Linked DNA regions of Homo sapiens: region 1 is linked to region 2. Evidence: fine-mapped expression QTL. Tissue or cell type: whole blood. Region 2 holds a variant in brackets; the other region holds the start of a gene. All regions are shown on one strand. Distances are between the middles of the regions. Region 1 holds the start of HIGD2A (HIG1 hypoxia inducible domain family member 2A). Region 2 holds the start of KIAA1191.

What was found.
Region 1: it holds the start of HIGD2A, and the variant in region 2 is fine-mapped to the expression of HIGD2A in whole blood (TOPMed, PIP above 0.99).

What each region holds. Positions count from the first base shown.
Region 1 is chr5:176,385,410-176,393,409 of GRCh38, reverse strand. It overlaps HIGD2A (HIG1 hypoxia inducible domain family member 2A), which reads right to left and starts at 4,659. Exons shown (of 2, transcript NM_138820.4): 1 at 4,437-4,659; 2 at 3,649-4,079. The coding sequence starts at 4,590. The coding sequence ends at 3,913. NOP16 (NOP16 nucleolar protein) reads left to right here and starts at 4,812. Exons shown (of 5, transcript NM_016391.8): 1 at 4,812-4,977; 2 at 5,067-5,175; 3 at 6,501-6,570. The coding sequence starts at 4,871. CLTB (clathrin light chain B) reads left to right here. Exons shown (of 6, transcript NM_007097.5): 6 at 465-909. The coding sequence ends at 636. It also overlaps a transcript of ARL10 not described here. RefSeq lists enhancers at 3,457-4,140, 3,962-4,181, 4,382-4,701, 3,974-5,173, 4,825-5,508.
Region 2 is chr5:176,356,875-176,368,012 of GRCh38, reverse strand. KIAA1191 reads left to right here and starts at 6,249. Exons shown (of 9, transcript NM_020444.5): 1 at 6,249-6,411; 2 at 8,095-8,202; 3 at 8,446-8,532. The coding sequence starts at 8,505. ARL10 (ARF like GTPase 10) reads right to left here and starts at 2,526. Exons shown (of 4, transcript NM_173664.6): 1 at 2,267-2,526; 2 at 1,432-1,633. The coding sequence starts at 2,449. MIR1271 (microRNA 1271) reads right to left here and starts at 67; the gene lies at 1-67. RefSeq lists a silencer at 2,272-2,661 and enhancers at 2,812-3,061, 6,174-6,493. The variant G/A (reference allele first, on the strand shown) is at 6,061.

The DNA.
Region 1 (8,000 bases), 27 kb before region 2:
GTTAGATGGTTAGTCAGTGTCCTACTTCTGCCAAGTTTTTGGAAATGGTGAAATAGCTAAGGTCCTGCATTAGGTCGTCCTAGGACCTCCAAGGGTCTTTAGGTGTCAGGAACCTCAGGTTGGGAACTCCCGATGGGGAAGTAATGAACAGAGGGTGCCTAGGCTGGGAAGACTTTCTGAGGAGGTGAGGCCCGCACTGAGACCTGAATGACAAGAAGCAGCAAGCCAGGAACAGGTCTGGGAGAAGCGTGTTCCAGGAAGAGGTGATAGCAAGTGCCAAGGTCCTGAGGCAGGACCAAGCTAGGCTTCCTCCTGCGCCAAGGCTGCCCTCCTCTGAAGTCAGGGGGGCACAAGGCTGGGGAGGACACAGTGCCCCAGAGTAGGCTGGGCAAAGCAGCCTTGCTCAAGGGCAAGGCTGGGGGAAAGCAGACTGCTATAAAAGCCCGTCCTATCTCCACCCGCAGGGCATCCGAGGAGGCTTTCGTGAAGGAATCCAAGGAGGAGACCCCAGGCACAGAGTGGGAGAAGGTGGCCCAGCTATGTGACTTCAACCCCAAGAGCAGCAAGCAGTGCAAAGATGTGTCCCGCCTGCGCTCGGTGCTCATGTCCCTGAAGCAGACGCCACTGTCCCGCTAGGTGCCTGCTAGGTGCATGGCCACAGAGCATGGGCTGGGCCTGGGCACAGGAGGAGCAGCTGCTTTGGTCGGGGTGGAGACTCGCAGCAGCTGCTACCCACAGCCTATTCCACTCCTCCCCATCTCCAGGCGCTGGGAGGGGGGCCCTCACCCCATCACGCCTCGCTCCCTCCTGGCCCTCTGGTCCAGCCCCTCACGCCTCCTCTCAGTCTACTCAATTGTGACTGTCCCTCCTGATGTATTTTTTTTCTTGGCTTAAAGGGTGTGTTGTTGACTCTTTTTACACTTATTTATTATCATTCTCACTTCTCTGGAAGCCACAACTGGTGTCAGGGCTCGGTTTGTGCTTAGAACTTTCCCAGCTTCATGACCTTGAGAGAAGGGAGAATGTTCCCCCATTTCCCAGCCAAGTGGGAGCCCCAAGCTCTCCATGTCTGTTGCCTCCACCTCCAGGAGGAAAGACAGCCTCTCGCAGAATGCTTTTGTAACCTCGATCCTTTAACAAGTCTGTGAGGTAAATTCTGTTATTCTCACCATATAACCAAGGACACCAAGGTTCCCAGAGGGGAAGTGGCTTGTAGTGGGAGGGAAAAGCGAGACCAGAGGTTCCTGGTGGTAGCTTCCTCCTAAGCCTGGGTAAGAGCCCTGAAGACCCATGAGACTCCCCTCCTTAGGGTTGGCTGGGACCTTCTGGATGTGGAGGGTCCACTGCCCTGTGTATTTCGCTTCCTCCTTCAACTGGGCTCATCTTGGATTTTGGATAAACAACCAGTGATCACACCTTCTTCCCCTTCAGCAGAGTTTGCAAACAGGACGTTCATGACCTGCATGATGTTTAAAAAGATTTGAGTAATTGCCAGTAAATATTAGCTTCCTAGGGCTTCTGTAAGAAGGTACATGAACTAGCTGGCTTAGAACAGAAATTTATTGTCTCATAGTTCTTGAGGCCAGAAATCTGAAATCAAGCTGTGGCAGAGCCATGCTCCCTCTGAAGGAGCTGGGGAAGGGTCTGTTCCACCTGCTTCTGGCTTCTGGTAGCCTCAGGCATCCCTTAGCTGGCAGACGCATCACCCCAATCCTGCCCCCATCAGGTGGCTGTTTGCACATTGCCTTCTAGGTATGTCTGTCTTTGTGGCCAAATCTTCGTTTTCTGTTTTTTTTCTCAAACAGGGTCTCGCTTTATCACTGAGGCTGGAGTGCAGTGGTGCAATCTCAGCTCACTGCAGCCTCAACTTCCTTGGGTCAGGCAATCCTTCCACCTCAGCCTCTCAGGTAGCTGGGACTACAGGCACGTGCCACCACATTTGGCTAATCTTTGTATTTTTAGTAGAGACGGGGCTTTGCCATGTCACCCAGGCTGGGCAAACTCCTGGGCTCAAGCAATTTATCCACTTTGGCCTCCCAAAGTGCTGGGATTACAGGGATGAACCATAGCACCCAGCCTAAGGTCAAATTCTAAGGCACTAGAAGGACTTCAACATTTTTGGAGGGGGACACCATGACACCAACACTTACAAACAGTGGTCATCACTCCATGTCCTTGTCTTGTATCTGGATGCCAAGGGTCACCACAGTGCACTGCTCTACATCTATCATCTCTGCCTCAAAGCTGAGAGAACATGGTGGAGGCAAGCAACTTAGCTGGCCCTAGTACAGCCCTCCACTGAGATCTAGACTGTTGGGGGGTTCAAGAAGGGGTGTGTCTTCACTCCCTTTTTCCTTCTGCCAGCTTGAAGCTGGTGTTGAAAACAGTACAATCACTCGGGAAGAGCGCAGGTCCTCAAATCCAACATTTGAGGAGCGCTGACCACAGACCAGGAATACTTGTTTGAAACTACATGAAGGAGGAACTAACAGGTCACCTCTCTTCTAGAGTGTGCTCAGGTCCTCAGCCTCCTCTTCCAGAACCCTCAAACACTATGTACACAAATCTCTGGAGAGCTTCGGGACTGTGTTCTTCCCACTGTACCAGACTGCTTCTCTGAGCCTGTTTCCTCTTCTATACTGTGTCAAGAACCAGATGGTCTAGGCTGGGCGTGGTGGCTCACGTCTGTAATCCCAGCACTTTGGGAGGCCGAGGTTGGGGGATTACCTGAGGTCAGGAGTTCAAGACCAGCCTGGCCAACATGGTGAAACCATGTTGTTTTAGTATTCTACTAAAAATACGAAATACAAAAATTAGCCGGGCGTGGTGGCACACACCTGTAATCCCAGCTACTCGGGAGGCTGAGGCAGGAAAATTGCTTGAGCCCGGGAGGCGGAGGTTGCAGTGAGCCGAGATTCTGCCACTGCACTCCAGCCTGGCTGACACAGTGAGACTCGTCTCAAAAAAAGAACTAGATGGTCTAGATCAGTGGAGCCCCATAGACTCTAGGGAGGTGGGAGCAGGGTGAGGAGGTTATGCGGAGTGGAGGGCAGAACCCTCTGCCTCTGACCCGACTATGGGAGGCCTCATCTGAAGGAAGGTTGTCCTACTGAAAGTCTGAAAAACTGCTGGCTAGACCAGTATTTTTCAAATGGCATTACTCTAGGCCCACTGAACTAGAATCTCAAGGAGTGACCTTGAGATTCTTTTTTTTTTTTTTTTTTTTTGAGATGGAGTTTTGCTCTTGTTGCCCAGGCTGAAGTGCAATGGCGCGATCTCAGCTCACCACAACCTCCGCCTCCCGGGTTCAAGTGATTCTCCTGCCTCAGCCTCGCGAGTAGCTGGGATTACAGGCACGCAACACCACGCCCAGCTAATTTTGTATTTTTAGTAGAGATGGGGTTTCTCCATGTTGGTCAGGCTGGTCTTGAACTCTTGACCTCAGGTGATCCGCTCGCTTCGGCCTCCCAGAGTGCTGGGATTACAGGTGTGAGCCACTGCGCCTGGCCAAATCTCTGCTTTCAAAGTGCCCTGGGTGGCTGTTACTAGGAAAGTTCGGGAATCACTAGACTACACGATTTCTAAGCACCACTCCAAAGTCCGTTTCCTCCAAAATCAAAGACCAAAAACCATGGGGATGATACTGAATTAAATACAAGTGGATTTTTAGAGTTTATTAAGCAGGGGAGTGGAGGGGAGATGTGGCACAAATAGAAGTATGTAACATTCAAACAACAGCATCTAGGATTTTTGAAAAAACTTTCGGTTACAGTTACACAAAGGGTCACTTCCTCCCCAGCGACACATGGGCCTCTCAAAGGAGAGGAGGGAGTAAGTCCCACGGTAGGGCCAGTGGTTGCTCCCTGGGTTTTGGAATCATTTCTGCGGAGCTTTCAAGGCCAGACCCTGGGCTTAGGGTCGAGACTTCATAGCAGTGACAGCCAGACCCAGCAAGATGGCTGCGACCGTGAAACCCTGGGCGGCGATCCGGGTGCGCATCATGAGCTGAGAGCGCTGGCTGTTGCCCCGGTGGAAGGAGTAGAGGCCGTAGGTGAGGGCGGCCGCCGTGGCCAGGCAACCTGAGGAGGGGACAAAGCAACTGGGAAACAGCAGGTCGGGCCCCGCAGGTCATTCCCCGCTTTGGGTCTCGCTTCCCCAAAGCCAAGATCTCTGGATCACAGCGGAGGGAGGGCGGCGAGGGTAGGTCGAGTCGAGGTCTTCCTAGTTACAGAGTCCTCCCAATCTTAGGCCCCAAATCCCGCCCCCTAAACCCGCTGCTCCCGCTCCAATCAGTTTCGCCCCTCACCGCCCCGCCCCCTCGTCTCTTCTCTAGTCCGCTCTCCTTCCGCTCCCCGCTAGCGCTCTGGTCCTTCTCTACTTCCTTCCCTCCGACATCACTGTCCTCTCCTTGTGCAGTTCCTACCGCACCCACTTACCTATGGGTACCACCGGGTTCTCGCGGGTCTTGCGAACGAACTTTTCCTTGAAACTCTCTGGATTCCTGTAAACAGTGGGGCTCAGCCCCTCAATGACTGGAGGCTTCGATGGTTCAAAGGGGACCTCCGGAATCACAGGGCCGGGAGTCGCCATGTCCGGGCCACAGCAGCAGGAGAAAATCGGGACTCCGACCTCAGCCTCCCGGTGAAGGTCATGAAAGGGGCGGGGAAACGAATAAATTGAGCCTTGTACGCAGGCGCAAATGCTCGTTGCATCCTGGGAGTCGTAGTGCTCAGCACGGTAGTGCTACAAAAGGACTACATTTCCCCAAATGCCCGCAAAGCCTTGTGCACGCCTTCCGGAAGGAGTTTGTTACACGAGGTCTGAGAGACAGAGGCAGCGTGTTTGAGCTGCTGGTGCGGTGGTCAGCGCGATGCCCAAGGCCAAGGGCAAAACCCGGAGGCAGAAGTTTGGTTACAGTGTCAACCGAAAGCGTCTGAACCGGAATGCTCGACGGAAGGCAGCGCCGCGGATCGAATGGTGAGGGGGCTGGGGTTCCGGGTGGCCGTGGGCCTCGGCCGGGACGGTCCGCGAGATGACGGATCCGCGATGTCTCTCTTTGCCGGTAGCTCCCACATCCGACATGCCTGGGACCACGCTAAATCGGTACGGCAGAACCTGGCCGAGATGGGGTTGGCTGTGGACCCCAACAGGGCGGTGCCCCTCCGTAAGAGAAAGGTACTGACATGGCAGGGTCTCGGTCCTTGTCTTCTTTACTCTTCCCCCGCCATACTGACCTAGGTGTCAGAACGTGGTACTGCCCATTCCTTCCCTCAGGCCCTTCCGAGTTTTCGACCTCCCCACAGTCAGAACGCTCAACTGACGTTGAGCAAGGGTCTCTTTACGACCTTCGTCACACTCCCTCCCCAGCACACATTCCCCATACCCCCTCTACTCAGTCTTTTTTCTCTGAAATTAACCCATTAGCATCTCAACGGTATTTTCCTTAATTTATCTTTTTCTACCCTTAACTTTCCTAATTAGTACTCCCTAAGAGTTGGAGATCTTTACTTACACCTTTTCTTTGTTATTCAATCATCCTTGGTCTGAGGCTTCCCTAGGCTTCCCTGACTGCAGTCTCCTTCCCGGGTTCAAGCTATATCCCACCTCAGCGTCCCAAATAGCTGGGATTATAAGCGTGTGCCACCATACCCGGCTGATTTTTGTGGTTTTAGTAGAGGCAGGGTTTCGCTATGTTGGCCAGGCTGGGCCTCAAGTGATCCGCCTGGCCCCCTGGAGGCTTCAACAACTATTAAAAGAATCCAGGTTCCCAAAAGAAAAGCAAGCAATTCATCTTTCTCTGCCTGCCTATCTATAAAATGGGTATAACACTCCTTGCCTTAGGGACTATCTAACTGTGTGGCTGTAGCCTCACATTTATTCAAGAAATGGTAGTGCCATTTTCCTCTGGCATGAAAGAATAAAAAGAAACTTGCCTAAGGCAATGGAACAAATTCATTCGCGAAGCCCATTCATTAGGTTAACTACTTATTGAGAACATGTCACATCCTAAGCACCCTGGGGATTTAATAGAGAACAAAACACAAAGTCCTTGTCACCAAGATTGTGTTGGGGGTAAAAGGCACAGACGGATTACTTGAGGCCAGGAGTTTGAGACCGGCCTGGCCAACATGGCAAAACCCCATCTCTACTAAAAACACAAAATTTAGCTGGGCATGGTGGCGCATGATTGTAATCCCAGCTACTTGAGAGGCTGAGGCAGGAGATCACTTGAACCCGGGGGGAGGTTGCAGTCAACCAAGATTGTGCCACTGCATTTGAACCTGGGCAACAGAATGAGACTCTGTCTCAAAAAGAAAAAGAAAAAAAAAAAGAGAGAGAGAGAGAAAAAGCCTCCAGGGCATTAGTTCTCATTGTTACCTACTTCTACCTAACCGTGGGCAGGGATTCTTATGGGTTAGTAGTTGTGTTGGGATAAGCAGGAGTCTATAACTTTCCCTCATCAAAGATCCTTCTGGTCTCAAGGGCTCTGTTCTCTGCAGGTGAAGGCCATGGAGGTGGACATAGAGGAGAGGCCTAAAGAGCTTGTACGGAAGCCCTATGTGCTGAATGGTGGGTGTGGTCCATATATTCCTTTAGGTCACTGTCCTGCACTGTGGGAAGCTGGGAAGGGCCCTAAGATGTCCTCATTTTGCAGATGGAGAAACCAAGTTTCAGAGGGGAGAAGTGAGCTGGTTCAAAGTTCACAGAGTTAGGACTGTGTCCTGGCTGGCTCATTTTTCATTGTACTGACTAAACCCTGACCTTACTGTGTGAACTAAGGTCAGAGATGTTTAGGGAGGATGTACCCAGGTGCCTGGGAGAATAGAAGAGAAACCAGTAAATCTCTGGCATGGGTATGGCTTCTCATGAATTTAAGGATGAACTGATTTTTAGGGATTCCACCATCTCAATAAATGTTCCAATGACAAAATCGATTTTATGTATATTAAGGCTATAGAGAGTGAACGCTAAAACGGAGGAGAGTAAACCCTACAGGAAAGTGGGAATACTCTAGAATTCTTCATTCATCCTTCCCCTTACCTGTCAGGGAGTTTAAGCAGCTCCCCTAAAGATAAAGGATTTGAATGGCCAGACATTTGATACAGAATTCCTTGAGTTCCTGTCTTTTATCTCAGTGGTTCTCATAAGAATTACTGCACAGGATTGTATATACCAAGCCATAGGCACTTACTGTAGTCAAAGAGGAACATTTTTAAAAATTTTAAAATGTGGTTAAAAAACACATAAAAGTTACCATCCTAACCATTTTTAAGTGCACTGTTCAGTAAAGGATATTGACTTTGTTGTGCAACAGGTCCCTAAAACCTTTTCATTTTGCAAAACTGAAACTATACCCATTAAACAACTCCCCATCTTCCTCTACCTCCAGCCCCTGGCAACCGTGTCAAAGATAATTTTGACTATATACAATATGAGGACCTAACCTCTGGATATGATTCGACTACTTCATTTCTCTGAGGTAGCTCTTTCTCTCTCTTTCTAGATGAGAAATGGAGTAGGATTTGCCTGTCTATTTTAAAAGTGAAGCCATTAGTTGGCTCCACATCCTGGCTTTTTCTCTCCCATGGAGCACTAGTAAGGTGCTGGGGCCCAGCCTCAGGCCCCAGACCCGGCAGCTCTAGATCTCATGTATTTAGACCGTCCCATTTCATGTGTTGCAATAATACATCAAGAGCTTCTCTGAGAGGCTTATAGCTGGAAGGGAGCCCTGTCCTGTGGGCAGGTATGTGCCTTCATCTCTGTCCTGAGACCTGCCACTAAGTAGAGGTTATTAGTCTGGTACCTTCCTTGTAAATCCACCTGAGGCCCGGAGAGAAGTGACTTCCCTTTCCAAAAGTTGCCATACTGGTAGATGAGTGGGTCATAGGAGACAGAGTCTGGGATCCAAGGGGCTGAAGGAGGTTCCAACAATGGATTTGGGAATGGGGAGGCAAAGACCCCCAGGTGGTTGGTGTGGTGGGTCTTGTGGCTTGGGAGTG
Region 2 (11,138 bases):
GGCACATAGCAGGCACTCAACAAATATTTACTGAGTGCTTGCTAGGTGCCAAGCACTGATCTGGGTGCTGCAGATACAGAGGTGAGCAAGGCAAGCAGGGGCCCTGCACCAAGGAGCTCCCTCCCTAACTGGGAAGGACATGGCAATGACATCAACACATTTCAAAAAGGAAAGAAATAAAACAGAAAAAAGGGAAAGTGGCTGAGGTGGAACAGGGGTTGGCCCTGGATTGGGTGGTCTGGGTAGGTCTCATCAAGGAAGTGGCATGTGAGCTGAGTGGGATGATGAGAAGGAGCCAGCCATGGGAAGAGGCAGAGGAAAGCATTCCAGACAGAGGGGAGAGCATGCTGGAAGTGTCTGGGAAACAGAAAGAAGGCTGGGGTGCTGAGGCACTGCAAGAAGGAGAAAGAGATGGCTGTGAGGCTGGCTGGGGCGGGCCACATGGGGCCAAAGACCACAGTGAGGGGGTGGGGAGCCCCCCAAGGGCTTTAAGCAAGAGTGACATTACCTGACATGGGTTTTCTCTAGCTGACACTAGGGACAGAAGGGGAAGCAGGAAGACCAAAGAGGAGGCTGTGGTGCTGAGAGGAAAGATGACACTAGTTTGGGCCAGACAGGCAATAGTGGAGGAGGGTGTGCCACTGCCCACTGCCATTCCAGCCTGGGCGACAGAGACCCTGTCTCCAAAAAAAAAAAACTAGAATGGTGGGGTGCGATGGCTTACGCCTGTAATCCCAGCACTTTGGGAGGTCGAAGCGGGCAGATCACTTGAGGTCAGGAGTTCAAGACTAGCCTGACCAATGTGGTGAAACCCCCGTCTCTACTAAAAATACAAAAATTAGCCGGGCGTGGTGGCGGGCGCCTGTAATCCCAGCTGCTCAGGAGGCTGAAGCTGGAGAATCGCTTGAACCCGGGAGGAGGAGGTTGCAGTGAGCCGAGACAGCGCCATTGCACTCCAGCCTGGGTGTCACAGTGAGACTCCATCTCAAAAAAAAAAAAAAAAAAAAAAAGACTAGAAAGGTGGGTGACCTTGGATTCATGATACTACTGCTGGAACTCATTTTCCTCTGGAGATAACGAGGGTAGTGACCGATTCTAGTTTTATGTAATTGTTTAGGGGAGTTTTCTTAAGCAATGCCCGTCAAGTGCTTGGCATATGAACCCTTAGCTGTTAGTATCTCTGTGTTAGGCCTATCGACTTTGGTAGGGGTGATGGGGCAGGCGGTGCAGCTGGAGAGGCCCGATCACGAAGGGCCCTAAATGTCAGAGCACAGAGCGTGGGCTGAATCCTGTGCCCCGGAGAGCGGTGGGAAGGATTCGTAGAGGGGAATGTGCTGCTTAGACATGCATTTTGGAAGCCCCCTTCCCTGCAGAGAATCCAGGACTGGTCCAGTAGAGGAGACGGGGAGATGGGGTAGGGTGTCCGCTCACTTTCTAGCAGGTCCACCTCAAAGTCCTTGGTGGGCAGACGCACGGAGTTGAAGCCCCAGGTGGGGATGTGGCCTTCCAGCGGTGGCTTCCCCGACAACACGCGCAGGAACGTGCTCTTGCCTGCGCCATCCAGCCCCAGCACCAGCACCTCGCGCTGTTCCAGCTCCTCCAGCGCCGGCTCCTCGTCCTCCTCGTCCTCGGGCTGCGGGGAAGCGGAGGTAAGGTTGCGGCTGGCGGCCTCCCGAAGGACCTTTCCCGAGGGAAGACCGAAGGCACCAGAGGGCCCAGGCCCGCCTTCCACCCGTCCTGGGACAGGCAGGCATGGTCTGGATGAGTGGGACGAACGCCGCCTTTGCAGTCCTGAATTCCAAACCCTTGGCGAATTCCTTAAACGCTCGCGCGCCCCGCTTCCTCCACCGGTCTCGGAGTCCCGACCGCAGGCGGGAGGGGATGGGGTTTCTCCCGACATCCCCACCCCCGGGCGGGGTGCACTGCGCAGGCGCCGGAGGGGCGCGAGCCGACCCGGCTGGGCCCCGGGATGCTCCCGAGCCGCGCCCTCCAAACTCCGGCCCCCGCTGGAACACCCGAGCCTCATGGCGTGGAGCGACGGCGTGGCGCCAAGGCGCCGCACGCACCCAAGCACACCCACCCGTTCCTCGGTTCCCGGGCTCTGACCGCCCACCCGCGCGGGGCCTGTGCGCTGCGGCTGCCAAGCCCTCGACCCCCCAAGCTCCCGGCACCAGCAGGGCCGTTCCGTGGTCACACCCCTTGGCCACATGCGCGGAGTCGCAGCCCAGCCTGCCCGCCCTTCCGCAGGCCTCGGCCCGGCACTCACGTCCCACTCGTCCCACTCGGGGAGGCGGGCAGCCTCCGCGCCCCACCAGGCCTCTCCCCGGTCCCAGCGCCGCTCTCGGCCGCGGCCGAAGTAGGTCTTCCAGAGGATGAAGAGCACCGAGCCCAGCACCGCCGCGGCGCCGCCCAGCGCCAGCACCAAGGGGCCCAGCGGCCGCGGCGCCATCGGGCCGGGCGAGGGACGCAGGTGCGGGTTGCACAGGCCGAGCCCACTCGCCCGCCGAAGATGGCCCCGCTGCGACTGCTGCGGCCGCGCCCACCCACCCAGACCCAGTCCCGCACTACAAGCCCCACAATGCACTGCCGCTGTCACGGCAGGCCGCCCGGGACCCGGCGGCGTGGGTGGTGGGGCGCTGGCCGGCGCGCGGGGACCTCCGGTCCCCCTGCCAGGTGCAGGGTGGAGGAAGGAGAGGCTGTGCCTGGGGAGGACGGGAGACGGCGGTGCTTGCTAGCATCCACCAGGGGTTAGCTCACGGCTTTTCTCCGTTACCCCTTACAATGATACCACGCAGAAGGGAAAACCGAGGCCCAGGAGTTAAGTAACCCGCCCAACGCCGCATCGTAGTGCTTTGGTGTAGCCTGCGTTCAAACCCAAGCGATCTGTCTCCCGGTCATCCCTCAAGACCTCGGGAGGAAATTGAAGCAAGACGCCCGATATCACACGGCAGTGGGGTGGCAGAGGCAGGAATAGAACCCAGGTCCGTGGCTCCCCGCCACCTCTAGCCTTCTTTCGCTGCCTCCCGGACCACAGGGGTTTTGCTGGGGTCCTGGTCAGGCTGAATTAAGCAGTGTCAGGACTTCAGAATGTTTAGGGCTGACTGCCTTGTCCTAGGTACCCCCAGTGACTGCCAAGGCTTCCACGTGTGTAGCACGAGGAGGAAGAACAGGAGAAACGACCTGAGTACAGCAGTCGGGTTCTTTTGGCTCTCCAGAGGGGTGACGCCATGTACGGCTGGCTGTAGGGTACATGGGTCGAGAGACCGCCTGTGGCTCTCAGGGCCCAGCAGGGCTACCTCTTCCCCTTTATATTGTCTCAACTCTTCACCTCCTTTTAGTTTGCGATTCCTCTGTACCCCTGGCTCTGGGTCCCAGCCCCTATTCCTTCTGATTTGTCCCCCTTTCCCTTTGACTACATATATATGCTCCTCTCCTCCCAGATAGTGATGTTTTAGCTACATCTTATTTCTTCCGGCATTGATTCTTTTGAAAAATTTATTTCTGGCCGGGTGTGGTGGCTCATGCCTGTAATCCCAGCACTTTGGGAGGCCGAGGCAGGCGGATCACCTGAGGTCAGGAGTTCGAGAATAGCCTGCCTAACATGGTGAAACCCCATCTCTACAAAAATTAGCCGGGCGTGGTGGCACGTGCCTGTAATCCCACCTACTCAGGAGGCTAAGGCAGGAGAATCGCTTGAACCCAGGAGGAGGAGGTTGCAGTGTGCTGAGATTGCGCCACTGCCCTCCAGCCTGGGTGACAGAGCAAGAATCCGTCTCAAAAAAAAAAAAAAAGAAAAAAAAATTAGCTCCTCCTCAAAAATACACCCACTTAGAGGGGAAAACCCACAAAATTGCTAAGATTAAAAGTTTGGCTGGTGCGGTGGCTCACGCCTGTGATCCCAGCACTTTGGGAGGCCGAGGCAGCCGGCCGGATCACGAGGTCAGGAGATCGAGACCATCCTGGCTAACACGGTGAAACCCCATCTCTACTGAAAATCCAAAAAATTAGCCGGGCGTGGAGCCGGGCGTGGTGGCAGGCGCCTGTAGTCCCAGCTACTTGGTAGACTGAGGCAGGAGAATCGCTTGAAACTGGGAGGCAGAGGTTACTGTGAGCCGAGATTGCGCCACTGCATTCCAGCCTGGGCAACAGAGCGAGACCTTGTCTCAAAAAAAAAAAAAAAAAAAATGTTTACAGTCTATTATTTGTGGAAAAGAAATAGGTGCTCTCACATAGGTGCTATGCACCAAGACCATGACAGCTTCAGACATTGGTACCACAAATATCAGGGATAAAGTTTTTTTTTTTTTTGAGATGGAGTCTCACTCTGTAGCCCAGGCTGGAGTGCAGTAGTGTGATCTCAGGCCTCCCAAAGTGCTGGGATTACAGGCATGAGCCACCACACCCAGCCAGAAATAAATTTTTCAAAAGAATCAATGCCGGAAGAAATAAGATGTAGCTAAAACATCACTATCTGGGAGGAGAGGAGCATATATATGTAGTCAAAGGGAAAGGGGGACAAATCAGAAGGAATAGGGGCTGGGACCCAGAGCCAGGGGTACAGAGGAATCGCGAACTAAAAGGAGGTGAAGAGTTGAGACAATATAAAGGGAAAGAGGTAGCCCTGCTGGGCCCTGAGAGCCACAGGCGGTCTCTCAACCCATGTACCCTACAGCCAGCCGTACATGGCGTCACCCCTCTGGAGAGCCAAAAGAACCCGACTGCTGTACTCAGGTCGTTTCTCCTGTTCTTCCTCCTCGTGCTACACACGTGGAAGCCTTGGCAGTCACTGGGGGTACCTAGGACAAGGCAGACTGCAGCCTCCGTCTCCCAGGTTCAAGAGATTCTCCTGCCTCAGTCTCCAGAATAGCTGGGATTACAGGCACCTGTCACTACGCCTGGCTGATTTTTGTATTTTAGTAGAGACGGGGTTTCGCCGTGTTGGCCAGGATGGTCTCGAACGCCTCAGCCTCTGAAAGTGTTGGGATTACAGGCCTGAACCACCGTGCCCAGCCAGAAAAAGTTGTTTTAATCAAATAGTAACTTCCAGGAAAGTCTTAAGTTTTCATGTATTTGTGGCTAAGAAATAAATGAGATGATCCCACCTTATGATCTACATAAGGGTGCAAAGTGCTATTTCTTCCTTTTCTGACTGAGAGGTGATATACATCCCTTCCTGTGGTGGATAAAGAGCAAGGTGCCAGCTTTGCTTCCACAGAGGTTAAAAAATATGGCATATTTTAAAAGCTCCAAATTAACAAAGGAACACCTTTAACACACACACGCACGCACACATATACACACAATTATACTGCAATGTAATTGTGCTGTTGATAAGCTAATTATAGAATTCATCAAAGACTTTAATTCTTAGTGCACTCAAGCACCCTGGTCTGGAAACAGCGCTTAAGTTTCAAGTCGCATGAGCAAGGCCTCTCAGTTCTGCCAGTACGGCTGGAAGCCTCAAATGCTGAAATCTAAATGTGACATTCACCCTGCACCACCAATCATAGCTCTCCTGAGATGAGTTTTGATGGCGAGCTTTGGACTGGGGTAGAAACGTGGATAGATTTTTGCAAATTCTGCTGTAACTTCGTTGCTTCGCCTTCTTTGTGAACCCTTCAGGGATAAGAGAAGTCTTCCTTCAGGATGTGACTGACACCTCAGCTGGCGCCTCTAAGCCTCACTCTCCTTTATGTAAAAGAGAAATGATATTAGGATCGCCTTCCCTAGGGGAGGCAGGTGAGGTCGGTTCCCTTTTTTGGTTCAGCTACTAGTACGAACCCTGCCTAACCCCGCTGTTTTGGGAGACAGTCCGTGCTCACTGCACCGCTTGCTAATCGAAGTGACTTCTCATCTCTCCCAGTCTCAGCTTCACCTCCGTGAAGTGGGAAAAACAGGATGACAAGTGCTCGCACTTGGCAGCCCTTTTTGAGCCTTGAGGGCTTGGGTTTGTGGGTGTCATTTTACTATGCTACCTCCGTCTTCCCTTAGCTTGTCACGGACCCAGGCACAGCACACGCGCTGAGGAAGTGGTGGTGAAGTGTGGCGTTTCCTCTCGGG[G/A]CTGGCGGATTCCACACTCGGAGCTGCGGCTCCACAACTCGCTGGGCGGCGAAGGGCATGGGGAGGGGGCGGGTCTCGCGATCGTGGACAACAACTCCCAGCATGCCCTGTGCTCCGCTGGGCCAAGTCTCGCGCGAGATCCCGCGGTCTCCGGAGGCTTTATCTGCAGTGCTGCCTGCCCGCTGGGTGGTACTGCTACCTAGTGGGTCTTGGGGACCTTCGAAATCGCCGCCGCTCTCACAATGGCTTGGGTCCAGACTGCGCCACAGCCTCTCGGGAGACGTGGGCCCTCGGAACCTTTTTAGTGCCGGACTCCGGGCCGCAGGCAGTCCCGCGGCAGCAGGATCACAGGTGAACAGATGGCGGGCCTGGGCCCTCCCTTGGGGCTGCGTTCTCTGGCGATCAGGAGGGGCGCTTCCGGCGAGGCCCGATCTCGGGGCCCCTCCAAGCCACTCCCCTCTCCCCGCACCTCTTAACCCTTCATCCCGGCTTCGAGCTCGGCTGGGTCGCCTCTTGCCTCCCTGGCTCCGCTCTCTGGGGTCTCCGTAATGGGGCTTCTCTCCGGGAATGCCCTGCAGCTCCCGTACGGGCTTCCCCTCCGCTTCGTGGGACCAGCCCAGCCCGAGCCCCCGCGGCTTGTCCTCAACCTCATCTCCCCACACCCCGCCTTCGGCTAGGGTCCTGGCCCTAATCTTAGCCTGGAGGGGTGGGTGAAGCAGCCGGCCTTTCGTATCCTGGCGGCACCGTCTTGTATATTGTGAAGGAGAGGCAGAGGGACGGTGAGCTGGGGGGTGGGGGCACAGGGAAAGGGAAAGGGGAAGGGGACGTGTCTGGGGCGGGAATGCTCCCTGGACTGGGAGGATGGCTGAATTCGGCCTTTGCGATGCTCGTTAGTGAAGAACTATCAATAACTTGTTTGCTCTGTCTGAGTCCTATCGGGATAGAGGGACGGTGTAGCAAGCTGAAAAACAAGAGTAACTTTCTCAGGCCCTCGTTTTAACTCCCCTGTAAACTGGGCATGAAACTACCTACCTTGCGCACGGACCACTTATCTGTGACCGTGGACAAATTTACTTAACTCCTCTGATTTTTAGTTTCCTTCTCTTTATTATTATTTTTAACATTTTTTTAATTTTTTTAATTTTTATTTTTGAGACCGAGTCTCACTCCGTCGCCCAGGCTGGAGTACAGTGGCTCGATCTCGGCTCACTGCAACCTCCGCCTCCCGGGTTCAAGCTATTCTCCTGCCTCAGCCTCCCGAGTAGCTGGGATTACAGGCGCCCGCCACCATGCCCGGCTAATTTTTGTATTTTTAGTAGAGATGGGGTTTCACCATGTTGGCCAGGCTAGTCTCGAACTCCTGACCTCAAGTGATCTGCCCGCCTGGGTCTCGCAAAATGCTGGGATTACAGGCGTGAGCCACCGCACCCGGCCAGTTTCCTTCTCTTTAAATTTGGGATAGCCTTTCTGTAAGAGATAGCTTAAAAAAAAAACTGGGGTCGGGCGCGGTGGCTCACGCTTGTAATCCTAGCACTTTGGGAGGCCGAGGTGGGCGGATCGCAAGGTCAGGAGATCAAGACCATCCTGGCTAGTGCGGTGAAACCCCATCTCTACTAAAAATACAAAAAATTAGCCAGGCGTGGTGGCAGACGCCTGTAGTCCCAGCTACTTGGGAGGCTAAGGCAGGAGAATGGCGTGAACCCGGGAGGTGGAGCTTGCAGTGAGCCAAGATCGCGCCACTGCACTCCAGCCTGGGCGACAGAGTGAGACTCCGTCTCAAAAAAAAAAAAAAAAAAAAATTGGGATTGGGATAAATAATATCTGCTTTGCCATCTTGCTGCAAGGATTAAAAGACAAGATAAACGCTGTAAATAGTTTATAGTGTTAGCTATAAAGAACAAATTTCCCTACTGTAGTATCTAGCCGCTTGCTGTGAGTTAAGAAAATGAAATGAGCAAGGTTGTTGTGGGGAATAAACAAGTGTTTGGCAGACTCTGACGGGCTGTTCCAATGCTGGCTGTTTGTTGTTATTAGAACCTCTGGATGGACTCTTCCTGGGAAGCTTTGCTACTTTGCAGCAGCTGGACCATGTTCCTCATTAACATCTGTCTGTCCGCTTAGTCATCACATCATTTCACTGTGGTAAGGTGACTTTTTCACCATGTATGGCATCTTAGCTCTGTCATCTCACAGGTGTTAAGATCAGCCACAGGTGTGGTGAGACGTTTGACTTTATCCTTCTTTTTTCATTGGCATGTTTGTCACCCACTGGCTCTTGCATGTGTGTTTCAACCTTGTAAACAAGCCGTTCAATTCTGTGTGCCTGCCAGAAGAACAGCATTGGTGCTGCTCACCATAAGAAAATGCCCTTTGTTATTTTATTAGGTGGCAGGGACTCAGCTCGGAATTCTGTATAGAAAAAGCACCTGGATCCCAGTCTTTCAATGGCTTCAAGACAACCAGAAGTGCCTGGTAAACTTAATTCTTTTTGGTAAAATCATGTTTTGCCCTTATTAATGTTTTAAGCTAGACAGAAACCATTTTATCGGAACTATATATTAATGGTTAATCTCTGCTACCAAGCGAGTATTTAGATTTACTAGATTGGCTTATTTTATTTTATTTTATTTTTTTGAGATGGAGTCTTGCTCTGTTGCCCAGGCTGGAGTGCAGCGGCACAATCTCGGCTCACTGCTACCTCCGCTTCCTGGGTTCAAGCCATTCTCCTGCCTCAGCCTCCCCAGTAGCTGGGATTACAGGTGCCCGCCACCACACCCAGCTAATTTTTGTATTTTTTGTAGAGACGGGGTTTCACCATATTGGCCAGGCTGGTCTGGAACTCCTGACCTTTTTTTTTTTTTTTTTTTTTGAGACAGAGTCTTGCTCTGTCGCCCAGGCTGGAGTGCAGTGGCGCGATCTCAGCTCACTGCAAGCTCCGCCTCCCGGGTTCACACCATTCTCCTGCCTCAGCCTCCCGAGTAGCTGGGACTACAGGCGCCCACCACCATGCCCAGCTAATTTTTTGTATTTTTAGTAGAGACGAGGTTTCACCGTGTTAGCCAGGATGGTCTCGATTTCTTGACCTTGTGATCCGCCCGCCTCGGCCTCCCAAGGTAATGGGATTACAGGCGTGAGCCACCGTGCCCGGCGGAACTCCTGACCTTGTGATCTGCCTGCCTCGGCCTCCCAAAGTGTTGGGATTACAGGTGTGAGCCACCACGCCCAGCCAGTTTTATTTTATTTTTGAGTCTCACTCTGCTGCCCAGGCTAGAATACAGTGGTGTGATCTCAGCTCACTGCAACCTCCGCCTCCTGGGCTCAAGTGATTCTCCTGCCTCAGCCTCGAGTAGCTGGGATTACAGCTGCCTGCCACCACGCCCGGCTAATTTTTGTATTTTTAATAGAGACAGGGTTTCTCCATGTTGGCCAGGCTGGTCTCAAACTCCTGACCTCAGGTGATCCTTCCACCTTGGCCTCCCAAAGTGCTGGGATTACAGGTGTGAGCCACCACGCCTAGCCTTAGATTGGCATCATTTAAATATTTTATTAGCCGCTCAGCCATAGTATGAAACTTTAACTTAAAGAGAATAGTCACTTCATTTAAGGGTATTATGACAAGTTTGTTACTTTCCTAGTTATCAAATAATAATTCAGAATAAGTTGTGCAGTTCTTGTAGTATGTACCAAAGTGATTAAACTCACCTTTTTGGGGGTGATGGGGAGGTGGGATGGAAGTCTTGGTAAAAAGGCACCAGCCTGCTTAAATGGCAGATTGAACTTAATCATGAAAATGCTCACAGCAACCCTTAATGAGTCAAGTTCTGGGTTATTGACACCATTGATGACTACTTGAATTGTTTTATGAGAAAGGAAAGTGATTTTTAATTACATCTGAATCGCTTAATTTCTGATTCTCGGTAAAGTATGATGATGAAGAAAGATGATGGTTCCTATCTCTCGGGGTTGTGAAGATTAAACAAAATATGTAAAAACAGGAGTTAAAAATCAGTGATAAATATGTATTTACTGCCCAGAATGCATTTGGTCTGTCTTTATATGAACATATTTTCCAGTAAATACTAGCTGACTTTATTTGTTTTAGGATGGCTGTTCAGTGGGAGTCTTTAAGATGTTTTTGAAATTGCTCCCCAAGTCTCCCGTATTCCCCAATATAGATCCATCTCTAGTCTTAACATCATCAGCTCCGTTTTAGTTTGTCTTTCATTGTTGCTGTGATTACCACAAACTCCGTGTAGCCGTCGCGAGCCATAGGATTGTGCCCATTCAGTGAATGCTTTGTAGTGTGTTGCATGCAGAGTGTGTGCACCGGCTCAGGTCTGTGTTCCAGTTCCCAGCACACTCTTTCAAGCTAGGTGATATTGGGCAAGTTGATTGTGAAAATGGAAAATTTGAAAATGGGAAGAATATCTGCTTCATGAGGATTAGATAAGATGAGGGATGTAATTGTCTAGCAAGGAGGAAGACTTAGTAATTATTATTTGCTTGTGTGTGTGTTTGAGATGTAATGCACATATCATAAAATTCACCCACTGAAAGTGAACAATGTCGTGATTTTTAGTATATTCACAGGGTTGTGCAAACAACACTACGATCAATTGCAGCACATTTTCTTTTCTTTTCTTTTTTTTTTTGAGATGGAATCTCGCTCTGTTGCCTAGGTTGGAATGCAGTGGCACGATCTTGGCTCTCTGCAACCTCCGCCTCCTGGGTTCAAGCAATTCTCCTGCCTCAGTCTCCCAAGTAGCTGGGACTACAGGCACGTACCACCACGCCTGGCTAATTTTTGTATTTTGAGTAGAGATGGGATTTCACCATGTTGGCTAGGCCGGAACGCCTGACCTCAGGTGATCCACCCACATCAGCCTCCCAAAGTGCTGGGATTACAGGTGTGAGCCACCACACCCATCCAAACTGCAGTACGTTTTCATAACCTCCAAAGGAAAACCTCGTACCATTAGCAGTCGTATCCTCACTCCCCCCACCCACTCCCTGGCAACCTCTAATCCTCTTTTTATTTCTATGGTTTTGTTAATTATTACTAATAGCAATAGTAATAA